3 linked regions of the Homo sapiens genome follow. Changing the gene in region 1 together with any one later gene gives a genetic interaction. Each region holds a gene or a part of one and is shown on either strand. Other genes may lie near its edges. The genes, in order: TRPC6, DOLPP1 and SAP30L.

What was found.
Region 2: changes in TRPC6 (region 1) and DOLPP1 together harm fitness less than expected from each alone (positive genetic interaction), as found in Homo sapiens cells (one large-scale study listed by BioGRID).
Region 3: changes in TRPC6 (region 1) and SAP30L together harm fitness less than expected from each alone (positive genetic interaction), as found in Homo sapiens cells (one large-scale study listed by BioGRID).

What each region holds. Positions count from the first base shown.
Region 1 is NC_000011.10:101,573,986-101,577,633, reverse strand, and holds part of TRPC6 (short transient receptor potential channel 6), read left to right. Parts: intron 1-3,648. UniProt on the Homo sapiens protein: Forms a receptor-activated non-selective calcium permeant cation channel. Probably is operated by a phosphatidylinositol second messenger system activated by receptor tyrosine kinases or G-protein coupled receptors.
Region 2 is NC_000009.12:129,084,111-129,087,672, forward strand, and holds part of DOLPP1 (dolichyldiphosphatase 1), read left to right. Parts: intron 1-557; coding exon 558-658; intron 659-912; coding exon 913-997; intron 998-1,096; coding exon 1,097-1,196; intron 1,197-1,407; coding exon 1,408-1,506; intron 1,507-2,028; coding exon 2,029-2,157; intron 2,158-2,598; coding exon 2,599-2,688; intron 2,689-3,562. UniProt on the Homo sapiens protein: Required for efficient N-glycosylation. Necessary for maintaining optimal levels of dolichol-linked oligosaccharides. Hydrolyzes dolichyl pyrophosphate at a very high rate and dolichyl monophosphate at a much lower rate. Does not act on phosphatidate.
Region 3 is NC_000005.10:154,444,452-154,448,199, forward strand, and holds the start of SAP30L (histone deacetylase complex subunit SAP30L), read left to right. Parts: upstream 1-1,545; 5' UTR 1,546-2,153; coding exon 2,154-2,354; intron 2,355-3,748.

The sequences.
Region 1 (3,648 bases):
GACCGTCCTCAATCAATCTAGTCCTTTGTCCTAGCCCAGACTGAAGAATGACTGCCTCCCCACCTCCCGCCACAACCTTTTTCTTTGGTGTAATATCTATTTTCCAAACTTTATTTCTTTTTAAAATTCTCCTTCTTTCCTAGATGATTGACATTAGATATGTCTACTCCTTTAAGCAAAGATACCACCACTGACCTACAGAAGTGTGGCTTTACTCTCTGACCCCAAAGGGGCAGTCACATCAGAACATGACAGTCCAGCAGCAGTACGAGGTATTTCCAAATAAAATTAAAGGGCTGATTTTCTTAACAAGACATATTTATTGAATGGTAAGTGAAATCAATAAAAGAGAACATGTGCGACACAATGATTTCTTATACATATGTAGTGGTCTAGAACGCAGAAAGAATCCTATAATCTAGTATACCCTTTGAAATGGCATCTATAACCATAAAGCCAAGACCTAGACTTTGGTGAAAGATTGCAGTGTGGAAGCTTGCTCTTCCAGGGGAAAAGCACGTGTAAAAACCACCTTCAAATCTGGCTCCCCTTCTATTAGGAGTAATCGTCTCCCCCAACCACTTGGATTAATGGTGGGTCTCATAGCTGATGACTTTGAAGCTCTGTATTCTGCATGGAAATGACCTGTTTTGTGTTGAAACCTCCCCTGGCTTGAAGTAATCAACTCTACTGGTAACATATTATTATCGTGAAGCATTTTTAGGGTGCCAGCATTGTAGGTTGTGGAATGATTGCCAGATGTGCTTAAAAGTCCACATTTATTCTGTAACAAAATGTTTGCCTCCAGGAAGACATTGCATAATTTTTTTTCTCTAGACAGTTTATGCTCCTTGAGTTGTAAGAAGTAACTTCATAAGGCAATTCATCTTAAAGAGGGTAAAAGTCATAAAAGGAAAACATTTTCTTGAGTCCATTCTTATTTTTCTCCCTCTTTCATAAAAAATGCCAAATATAATTGGTTCCAGTTGGATAAAATTACCATGTGTGTGATTGCTCTTTGTTTAGGAATCTTCTGATGGCTTTCAATACATGCAGAAGTGTTCATCCATATGCCAAGTTTCAATTAAACTTTGGCATCTAAAATTTGGTATGCTGCTCAAGAGGCTTTAAGCCATTGGAACTGACTGAATCACAGTTCTTATAGAATCTCTGTTTAGAGCAGAATACAGAAATGAGTGTTACACATACTCAAACAACCTATATGATTGCAGCATAACTGTTCTCCACCTAATTCAGCTCTCAGCCATGACAAAGAGGAGAAATGATGTTAACTAGAATTACATACAGTTTAATGTAAGTTGCTGTTTCTGTGGAGGACTAATCCAAAATATTTATATATATTTGGGGCAACTAACATTTTTTGAATACCTATTCTGTAGCAGGTTCTTTTCTAGTTGTCATACAAATGTAATTTGATCTTCAGAGCATCTACTCAGCTATTTTTAGCATCCGTTTTATAAAGAACAATGCTGAAATTTAGAAATGTTAAACAATGTGCAGTAAGTTACACAGCCAGTAGGTTGTTGTCAAGTGGGCAAAACCCAATATATTTGGGGCTGGAACACGTGGACCATGGGGCTGGCAGATTCTCTCAGTATCCCATATCTCAGTCCTCTATTCTCTCAGTATTCAGCCAGGCACAGCTGGATACAGGTGGATTATGCTCTTCAAAAGCGCACTCACCCCCATTCCTTCTCTTCTCCCTTTTCATAGGAATTTGGAAAGCCACACGTTGGCTCTGATCTACTGAACCAACATTCCTTGTGCTGTGCTCATTATATCTAAGTTATATCCTGGGTACGGATAGAAGACTGGAAGAAAAGGGCATAAATAGCAGTAATAAGTATGTTTAACCCCCACTTTCTCTTTCTGTTGAAATCTTAGCCATCTTTGGAGGTCAAGCTTTATATCTCACTTCTTTCATTAATTCATTAATCTATTTATTCATTCATCTCTGTTGATTTTATATGATTATGTCCAGCAAGAATAGAAATAATAGCTAGATTTATTAGCGACTTCTGTGTGCTAGGCCCTTCTCCAAGTGCTTTGTAGGTATTAACTCATTTAATCCGTATCACAAACCTATGAGATATGCATTTTTATAATCCTCACTTTACTGATAAGAAAAAAGAATGACAGTAAAAAGAAGGTAGGTGACTTGCCAAATGCTACACAGCTAGCAGTTGGCACAAATGGGAAGAAAGAAAGGGAAGAGCAAAGGATTTTGTTTTATCTCTTATTTCAATAAAGAGTGAAACTAGGTTTTGAAAAATTGCCAGTCTTTGTCACCAAAGGAAGACTATGAATGTTAACAAAATTGTGTCGATTGCTAATGTTACCAAAGATCCACAAACTGATCATGACTAAAGATTGCAAAAGGCAAGGCTTTCTTTTACTTTTCATTGCCATCATGTGGATAAAACTGCTTCTATGCTATAATGCAGGTTGTTTTAGAGACATTGACTCACATGACAGTGTGAAACTGGGGATTTAACCACAAGATTTGCATAATTTTTAAAGCATTTACATGGTATTCGTCTAAAAATATAAGTTGCCAGGAATCAATTACAGTGTGGATAGTCATGTTAAGATTGACTGCCTATTCAAAGCAGAGTTCATGTTTCCATTGCACCAGCTTTGGTTTGTGATACAAAAAGCATTTTGTCCTGACTTGTAGTAGCACAAAACCTTCACAAAAAAAAGAAAAAACAAAAAAACTAGGAAGAGTTCTTTTCATGGGAATCGCTAATAAAATTATCTTGAGAGTTAGGAGTCAAAATAAGAATTAGAAATGGCAATTTCTAAAGGTAACTTAAAAATTCTTTTAGGGAGCTAAACTGTTACAGATAAAAATCATTTTTGTTATTACTGAGTTAGCCTTCTTGAAACAGAATTTTGTATAGAGTAGATTGAAGGGTGGCAGAAGCAGCTATAAAAAGCTGATCCTGGGCAGTAAGAAAATCCCCACACTTAACCTAGGGGAGGGATTTCTGCAGGAACCCTTTTCTTGGAGGGGCATTCAGGGCCAGACACTGTATTCCATCTGGAAAGATTCTTAATTTATTTCAACAAACATTTGTTTAAGTTCCTTTGGTATGTTAGGCACCATTTTAGGGTAACCAATGAATACCATATAGCATGAAGTCTAAGCTTCTATCAATTGTAACCTGCTCTGACATTTTATGTATCTTTAAGAAATAAGCAAAAAGAAGTGTTATCAGTTAAATTATATCTTAGATTTTTATTTTATACCTCTTAAAACAGTTCTTTATACTCAATTAGATATAGATTTGGATCATATATAACTCTTATGCACATAATTAAAAAATAAACAAATTTGTTATGGTATTCCTAAGTTCCTTCACATTTGGGGATGGAGTCTTCAGAATCACTTTTCAACTCAGAAGCTTCAGTGCCCATATTTTTCCACAGGATTGTGCTCTGTGCCAAAAGGACATTGGTGATGAAGGATTTCTTTAAAACAATCTAAAGAATCCATAATAGACCAAAAGCTTTTGGTGCTAGACAATTAAACTGAGTTTGCAATTACATAGAGGTAGACTGTTTTGAGTAACAGTTCCAGAATGTTGCTAAACAAATCTGATTCAACACTGTTCCTTACGTACT
Region 2 (3,562 bases), on another chromosome or scaffold:
GTGGACCCAAGTCTGTGTGGTGTCCAGAGAACGTCGGATTTCCCTGGAGGCCCAGGGCTCAGCCAGGGCAGCCCCAGCACAACAGTGTGTGGCTCTCATGTGCCTGCCGGGCTGCCTCCCAGGTCCCAGGCTCCACCTCTGGAGTCACCAGGCCGGGTTCACCTTCCTGCTTTGGCAGGAGGGATTGGTCTAGTGTCTGGAACAGGTCAGAGACTTGGACTTTAGTCCTGGTCCCACCTCCTTCTGGCTGTGTGACCTTGGGCGAGTCACATAGTTGCTCTGGAATTCAGTTTCTTCATCTATAGAATGGGAACAGTGAAGGCACCTGCTTTAAACGCATGCTGTGTGCACTTTAGTGCTAAGTAGTAGACAGCATCACGTATGGCTGTGACTGAGTTGGCACAATCGGCCGGTAAACAGGTGTCCCTGGCTGCCTGGCCTCCATTCTCCAGGCCCTGCCGGGACCTCCTTTCTGGATCAGGCCTTACTTGTAGGGGGCTGGTCCCTCTTCTGATGCCTGTGCCCTGTCCTCCTGATTCTGTTCTCTGTCTTGCCAGGTGATCTCTCTGGCCACCTCCTTGCCTACCTGAGCCTCAGCCCTGTATTTGTCATCGTCGGTTTCGTGACCCTCATCATATTTAAGCGGGAGCTGCACACGGTGAGTCTGTCTTGCCCACACCCTCCCCACCCCACCCCCAGTGCCCCCACCCTGCTTTGGGAAGCCCGTCCGCCCCTCAGTCCAGGGTTCTCATCCCTGCGTCCACCTGTCTTGAGGTGCGTGGAGCCTCCTGGCTGGTTCTAGGTTACTCACCTGTTGGGCTGGGAGGTTCAGTCAGAGGCCATGGTCTTTGGGACTAGGTAGCAGCCAACAGGTGCACAGAGGCCCAGCTGACCATGCGTCTTCCCCAGCAGATCTCCTTCCTTGGGGGCCTGGCACTGAACGAGGGGGTCAACTGGCTGATCAAAAACGTCATCCAGGAGCCACGGCCCTGTGGAGGTAGGGCCTCAGCTGCGAGGGCCTGAGGTTCCCCCAGGTTGGGGCGTTACTGGGAGGTCTGCATCCCCCCGTGATGCCCTGGTCTCCTCTCTCTCCCAGGCCCCCACACAGCAGTGGGCACCAAGTACGGGATGCCCTCCAGCCATTCCCAGTTTATGTGGTTCTTCTCCGTCTATTCCTTCCTTTTCCTGTATTTAAGGTGAGTTTCCACCCCGGTCAGGATGGCCCTGAACTTGCTCAGGCCGAGTTCTGCTAGGGACTCACTGCTAGCCCTTTGGATGCCCCTGGGGTGGGAGGGGCTGCAGCGGAGGCAGAAGGTACCCAGGGAGCATTTGGATGGGGCCAGGGACTGTTTGGGAGGCCTGGGCTGGGCTGTGGGCTGAGGTCATCTGGTGGGCCTGTTTTCGCAGAATGCACCAAACAAACAACGCCAGGTTCCTGGACTTGCTGTGGAGGCACGTGCTCTCCCTGGGACTCCTCGCTGTGGCCTTCCTAGTCTCCTACAGCAGGTATGGAGGAGGGAGAGCCCCTGCCTGCACCCTGCCCATGTGGGGTCCTGCTGGTTCCTGGTCCCTGTCGGACCCCACCATGGACCCTAGTCCCAGAACCTGTAGTGCAGGACTGGAAAAGGGGTCCCAGACCTCTAGTTTTAAAAGGACAGGGCTCCAGCTGCCTCTTCTAGCCCAGTCCGCACTGAGCCCAAGATTCTGGGACCAACTCCACGTATCAGCCATCTCTTCCCAGCGTTCCGGAGGAGCCCACTGTAGACAAATTCAGAGGTCAAGGGCTAGATGGGAGGCAGGCAGATCCCAGCTGGCCCTTCACTGCTACAGATGGGAGAGCTGTGTTTGGGGTCCAGCGCCCTCCCACTTGGAAATGGATCTGAGGCTGTGCCCCGTGGAGTCAGTGTCCTGTCTGTGTCTCCACATGTGTGGGCACAGGTCCCTGGGAAGCTGGCACATGGGCAGTGGGGATTGTGCGGGCCTGTGTCTGACTGGCTCTCACATACTTCGCTTCTGGCCTTGGCCCAGGGTCTACCTGCTGTACCACACCTGGAGCCAGGTGCTCTATGGAGGCATCGCTGGAGGCCTCATGGCCATCGCCTGGTTCATCTTCACCCAGGAGGTCCTCACCCCGCTGTTCCCCAGGATAGCAGCCTGGTAACTGCCTCCTGCCTTCCTGGGCACTGTGGGCCCTGTCCCCTCCTGTGGGTGGGGCCATCAGTGGGCGGACCTAGGAGTCTTGACCCCAGCCCCTGTCTCCCTGGGAAGGCCCCAGTGCCCCAGGGTTTGTGGCAGAGACACAGGGGGTTTCCTCAGGCCCGGAAGCCAGAGTGCCATCCTCTGTCCTCGCCTAGGTTCTCAGGGACTTAGAAGCCTGAGTCCTGCTGGGCTGTGTGTGCCGTGGGACAGTGCCCCTGCCTGAGGTGACACAGGTGACATAGCTGGGTCTCTCAGTGGCTCTGGGGTCTCAGGCCAGGCAAAGACTCTAGGCAGTCGGGGCGGGTGCCGTGCCAGCCCCGGGCAATGGTGGGGATGGCTGGCATGGTAACAGACTCATGCCCTGATGTGCCCCTGGCTCTCTGATGTCTGTCTCTCCAGGCCTGTCTCCGAGTTCTTCCTAATCCGAGACACAAGCCTCATTCCCAACGTACTCTGGTTTGAGTACACGGTAACCCGGGCAGAAGCCAGGTGAGTTCAGGGGACAGCAGTGCTCACTGGGCCAGCCACAGGCAGCCTCTGCCTCCATGTTTGGAGGGCTCTCCGGGAGCCTCGCGCCTGCCTAAGCACTTCTCTTGCATTAACTCATTGAATCCTGCTGTGACCCCCATTTTGCAGATGATGAAACTGAAGCTTGGAGAAGAGAAGTCACTTGCTCGAGATCTTGCAGATAGTGGGTGGGGGAGCAGGGTGGTGAACCCAGGCTGTCTGGCCCAGGGCCCATGCTTTTAACCTCTGCAGCCCAGAACCAGAGAGCTGGGCAGCTGAGGTTCTCAGGGCTCCTGTGTGTGGACATCCCTAGGGATTAGTCCAGATGCTTTCTTAGGCCTGGGTAAACTGAGGCACATTGAGTTAGGAGGCCAGCCTGTAGTTGTGCAGCAAGTCAGGACAGAGCTGAGCTTTGGAGACTCCTGACTCATGCTGTTTCATTCACCCCAAATCCTGGGTGAGGTTCTTAGGGGAGTGGGAAGGCTGGCTTTTCTTTTTTTTCTTTTTTTTTTTTTTTGAGACGGAGTCTCGCTCTGTCGCCCAGGCTGGAGTGCAGTGGCGCGATCTCGGCTCACTGCAACCTCTGCCTCCCTTGTTCACACCATTCTCCTGCCTCAGCCTCCCGAGTAGCTGGGACTACAGGCGCCCGCCACCACGCCCGGCTAATTTTTTGTATTTTTTAGTAGAGACGGGGTTTCACCGTGTTAGCCAGGATGGTCTCAATCTCCTGACTTTGTGATCCACCCGCCTCGGCCTTCCAAAGTGCTGGGATTACAGGTGTGAGCCACCTCGCCCGGCCGAAGGCCGGCCCTTCTCTGGGTTCAGAGGGGAGCTGAGGCTCCACAGGAAGCCTGGG
Region 3 (3,748 bases), on another chromosome or scaffold:
TATTCTCTATAGAAAATGTTTACATTGATGTTGAAACTACCTCAAATGCTAACTGCACAATCTCTTTCTGAAGATTTTAGGTAGTTTACTTAACCACTTCCCTTTTGGAACTCTGAGGTTCTATTTTATTTTTCCTATTATAAATAATTCCATAATGAACATCACTGTACTTCATATTATCTCTGATAGGCCTATTTCCGACGATGGCTGTCCCACGTGTGAAATTACCAGTTCAGATGCTACAAATGCATTTATGGCCACTGAGCAAAACTTAAGATCACCAGCCACCTGCTTCTAAACATGGAAACTGGTAGCTTTCCCTTTTACAACAGGACACAAACCCGAAGCTCCTTCTATGCCCTCTAGTACTAACACTTGCTTACCTATCACCTAACACAGCCTCCCCTCTTCCCTGCCCATAAAACGCTGCCCAGCCCTACATAATTACACGACCCTGGGCTGGTCCCATCGCCTTTCGGACCTCATCAGTCCCCATGCTGCGCAGTTGGAGAGTGGCATGACTGAAGTGCTGGACCAGAGCATATCCTACGGCCCCTCCTGGAGGGGAGGTGGTGCCCTGGGCGCCGAAACCAAGCGCAGGGTCTTGGCAGGGCGCAGTCGCTTCGCCGGTAGACCCGGGGACTCAAAGCAATAGAACTACAGCTTGGAGCTCCAGGGAGAGCCCAAGACACCGCAGCCCTTCCCCATCTAGATTCCGAGATTGGCCCCTGGGCCCCACTCCCAGCCTTCACTTCATCTCCCCTGAAGCCCTTTCTCTTGCCCGCGGCTCACCTAGTCCACCCTCCAGACCTCATTCGGACTTCCCATTCTTCCCAGTGGAGGGGTCGCCCAAACCCCTCGGGGTCTCCTTTCCCCCTCTCCTTTTCTTTCCGCGCCGTCCAAGCCAGTCCCACTCTCCACACTCTGGAAGGTATCGGCTACCCCCAATATTGCGACTGCCTTGCAAGATCCCCCCATCACCTCCTCCGCATGTCTTTCCACGTATCTGTATGGGGTTGTCCCTCTGTCTTTCCCGCCATGACTGGCTTTCCGTCCTATTTCACCCACCCTTCCTCCCACGGATCCGCGAGTCCTCTGGCCCTGGCCCTTTCATTTTATTAGTCCGCCCCTCTCCTGATAGCACCTCTATCCTCTTTAGGTCCCCTCATATGCCCCTCCTCCAAGTCTGTCCCTCAGCGTCCCCGTCCGCGTCTCTACTGTCTGTCCCCGAATGTGTTCCTCTGTTCCTGGAGTCTGGCCCTCGGTCCAGCCAGGCCCCTGCTCACCATCCCTCCCCCGGGCCGGAGAGTCTGCAGCCCGGTTCCCGGTTCTCGCTGGGGTAACTCTTTCCTCTTCCACTTTCTCTACTTTGAACCCATCCCAGCAGAGTCCAGGAAGTAGCCTGGCGCCGGAGACTGGCGGCGGCGACGCCCAATGGGACGCGCCAGCGGCGGCGGCAGCCCCGCCCAGAGAGCAAATGAGACCAATGGTCGCGTGAAGGCGGGACTTCCGCTGTCCCGCGAAGGGCGGGGGGAGCGAACTGTTGTGGTGCGGAGCGTTCGGCGGGCGGCGGCCGGGCGGCCCAGGGGCTGCCGCGGGACTCGGGGCGCAGCCGAGTGGCTGCAGGGGTGGAGTGGGCCGGACGAGCCGCGGGGCCCGGGTGCCGCGGGTTCGAGGCCGGGCCCCGCGCGAGGAGGCCGCGCCACCCCGGGGGAGCTGCCCGGCAGCGAGTTTGCCCCGCTGCCGAAAGAAGGCGGGAGCCGGCAGGGGCCTTCGAAACCCCCTGGCAACCCAGGCCCGGAGTCCTTGGGGAGCGGCTGTTTCCTGGGACGCCCTCCCGGACACCCCCGCTGCAGGGTTACGGTTCTGGGCCCCCGGCAGAAGGCTCCTCCGGGTGACCCCCGGCGGGGCCCTGCGAGCCGCGGGAGCCGACCCCGGGGCCTCGAGCCGGGAGGAAGGGGGCTTCCGGAGGCGGAGGGCCGGGGGCCGAGGGAGCCGGGCCTCTCGGACGCGGGGCAGGGCAGCGCCCGGGCTGGAGACGGACTCTGGGACCCTCGGCTGCGGGGGTCTCAGCGACCTGCCCCGCGGCAAGCGCGGCCGCGGAGTGGCCTACCGGGGACCCTCCCCCAGAGGGACCGGCCCGGGGCGGGGAGATGAACGGCTTCAGCACGGAGGAGGACAGCCGCGAAGGGCCCCCCGCCGCCCCAGCTGCCGCCGCCCCGGGCTACGGCCAGAGCTGCTGCCTCATCGAGGACGGCGAGCGCTGCGTCCGGCCCGCGGGCAACGCCTCCTTCAGCAAGAGGGTCCAGAAGAGCATCTCGCAGAAGAAACTCAAGCTGGACATCGACAAGAGCGTGAGTCCGCCCCCGCTCGCGTCTGGGCCCCGGCGCCCCCAGCTCTCCGTCCGCTGCCCTGGGCTCCAGTCGGGACTCCCCGGGCACTCCCCGCCGTGGGCCTCGCCGCCCCGGCTCTGCAGAACTGAGTTGGACTCCGCATTTCAAAGGCCGCTCCAGCGCTGACATGCTCTGACTGTGATTCTACCCAGATCCGGGAGGATGGGGGCGGGGGCTTCAGGACTCCTGCTGCCTGGAAAGATTGGACAGCAGTTTCCAACTTGTTTTATTGGTTTAGACTTTAGAGCAGGGAGAGGTGGGTTAGTTTTGTTGGCCCTTGAAGGAGCAAGAATCGGAGCGGGGAGTGATGAAGATACCCGGCTCTTTTCCAACTTCTCTCTCCTTCTAGGAACCCTGTTATTCCTTCAGACAGAGAAAGGTGGCAGTTACTTCCCTGGCTCCCGCATCCTCGGTATCAGCAGAGGGTCACCGAGCTAGCTGCTTCGCAGGCAGCTGTGGGAATGGGTTTTTCTAGGATGTGGCAGAAATAAGGCCAAGGCCAGGTCTTGAGAAATGGCTCTTGCAGTCGATGTGACTGGAGGGGGGAAGAAAAGAAATCAATTTTCTTAGTGGTAGTTTCTTTTGAAATAAGGGGGTGGATATTTAAATTTAAATCGGATTGCCCTGCTCTTTGTGGCTTATTATAGGAAACTCCTCCCGTGTGACTTCACCACTTCTAGTTAACAATTCTGAAGCTGTGCCTATTGTCAACCAATTAAGAACTTTTTAGTTTGACATCTGTTGCTACAAGCCTTAAGTGATTGCTTCATGATTAGGAATTGGAAATGAGTTAAGGGGATATTTAATATTCAGGTAGACTAGCTAAGAGCTTAGGTGGTTAACATCCATTCTCTTCTAGAATCAGAATTTCTCCACAGTTGGAGGAAATCAGAGACTGCTTGTTAAACTGAAAGGGAGTGCACGTTTCCCCTCTGATTTTAGGGTTGAAACAGGCCCAGAGATAGGAAGTGAGGGTGTCAGGTACACACAGCACCTAAGAGGCTGGTTAATTTCTTAAAGATATTATCTAATTTACTTCCAAGCCCTATACATAAGTCTTCATTAAGTCTCTAATAAATAAAAAATCTCCCCTGTCCTTTTTCTTTTCTTTTTTTTTTCTTTTTCTTTTTTTTTTTTTTTTTTTTTTTTGAGACGGAGTCTCACTCTGTCACCCAGGCTGGAGTGCAGTGGCAAGATCTCGACTCACTGCAACCTCCGCCTCCCGGGTTGAAGCGATTCTCCTGCCTCAGCCTCCTGAATAGCTGGGATTACAGGCGTTTGCCGCCATGCCTGGCTGATTTTTGTATTTTTAATGGAGATAGGGTTTCGCCATGTTGGACAGGCTGGTCTTGAAC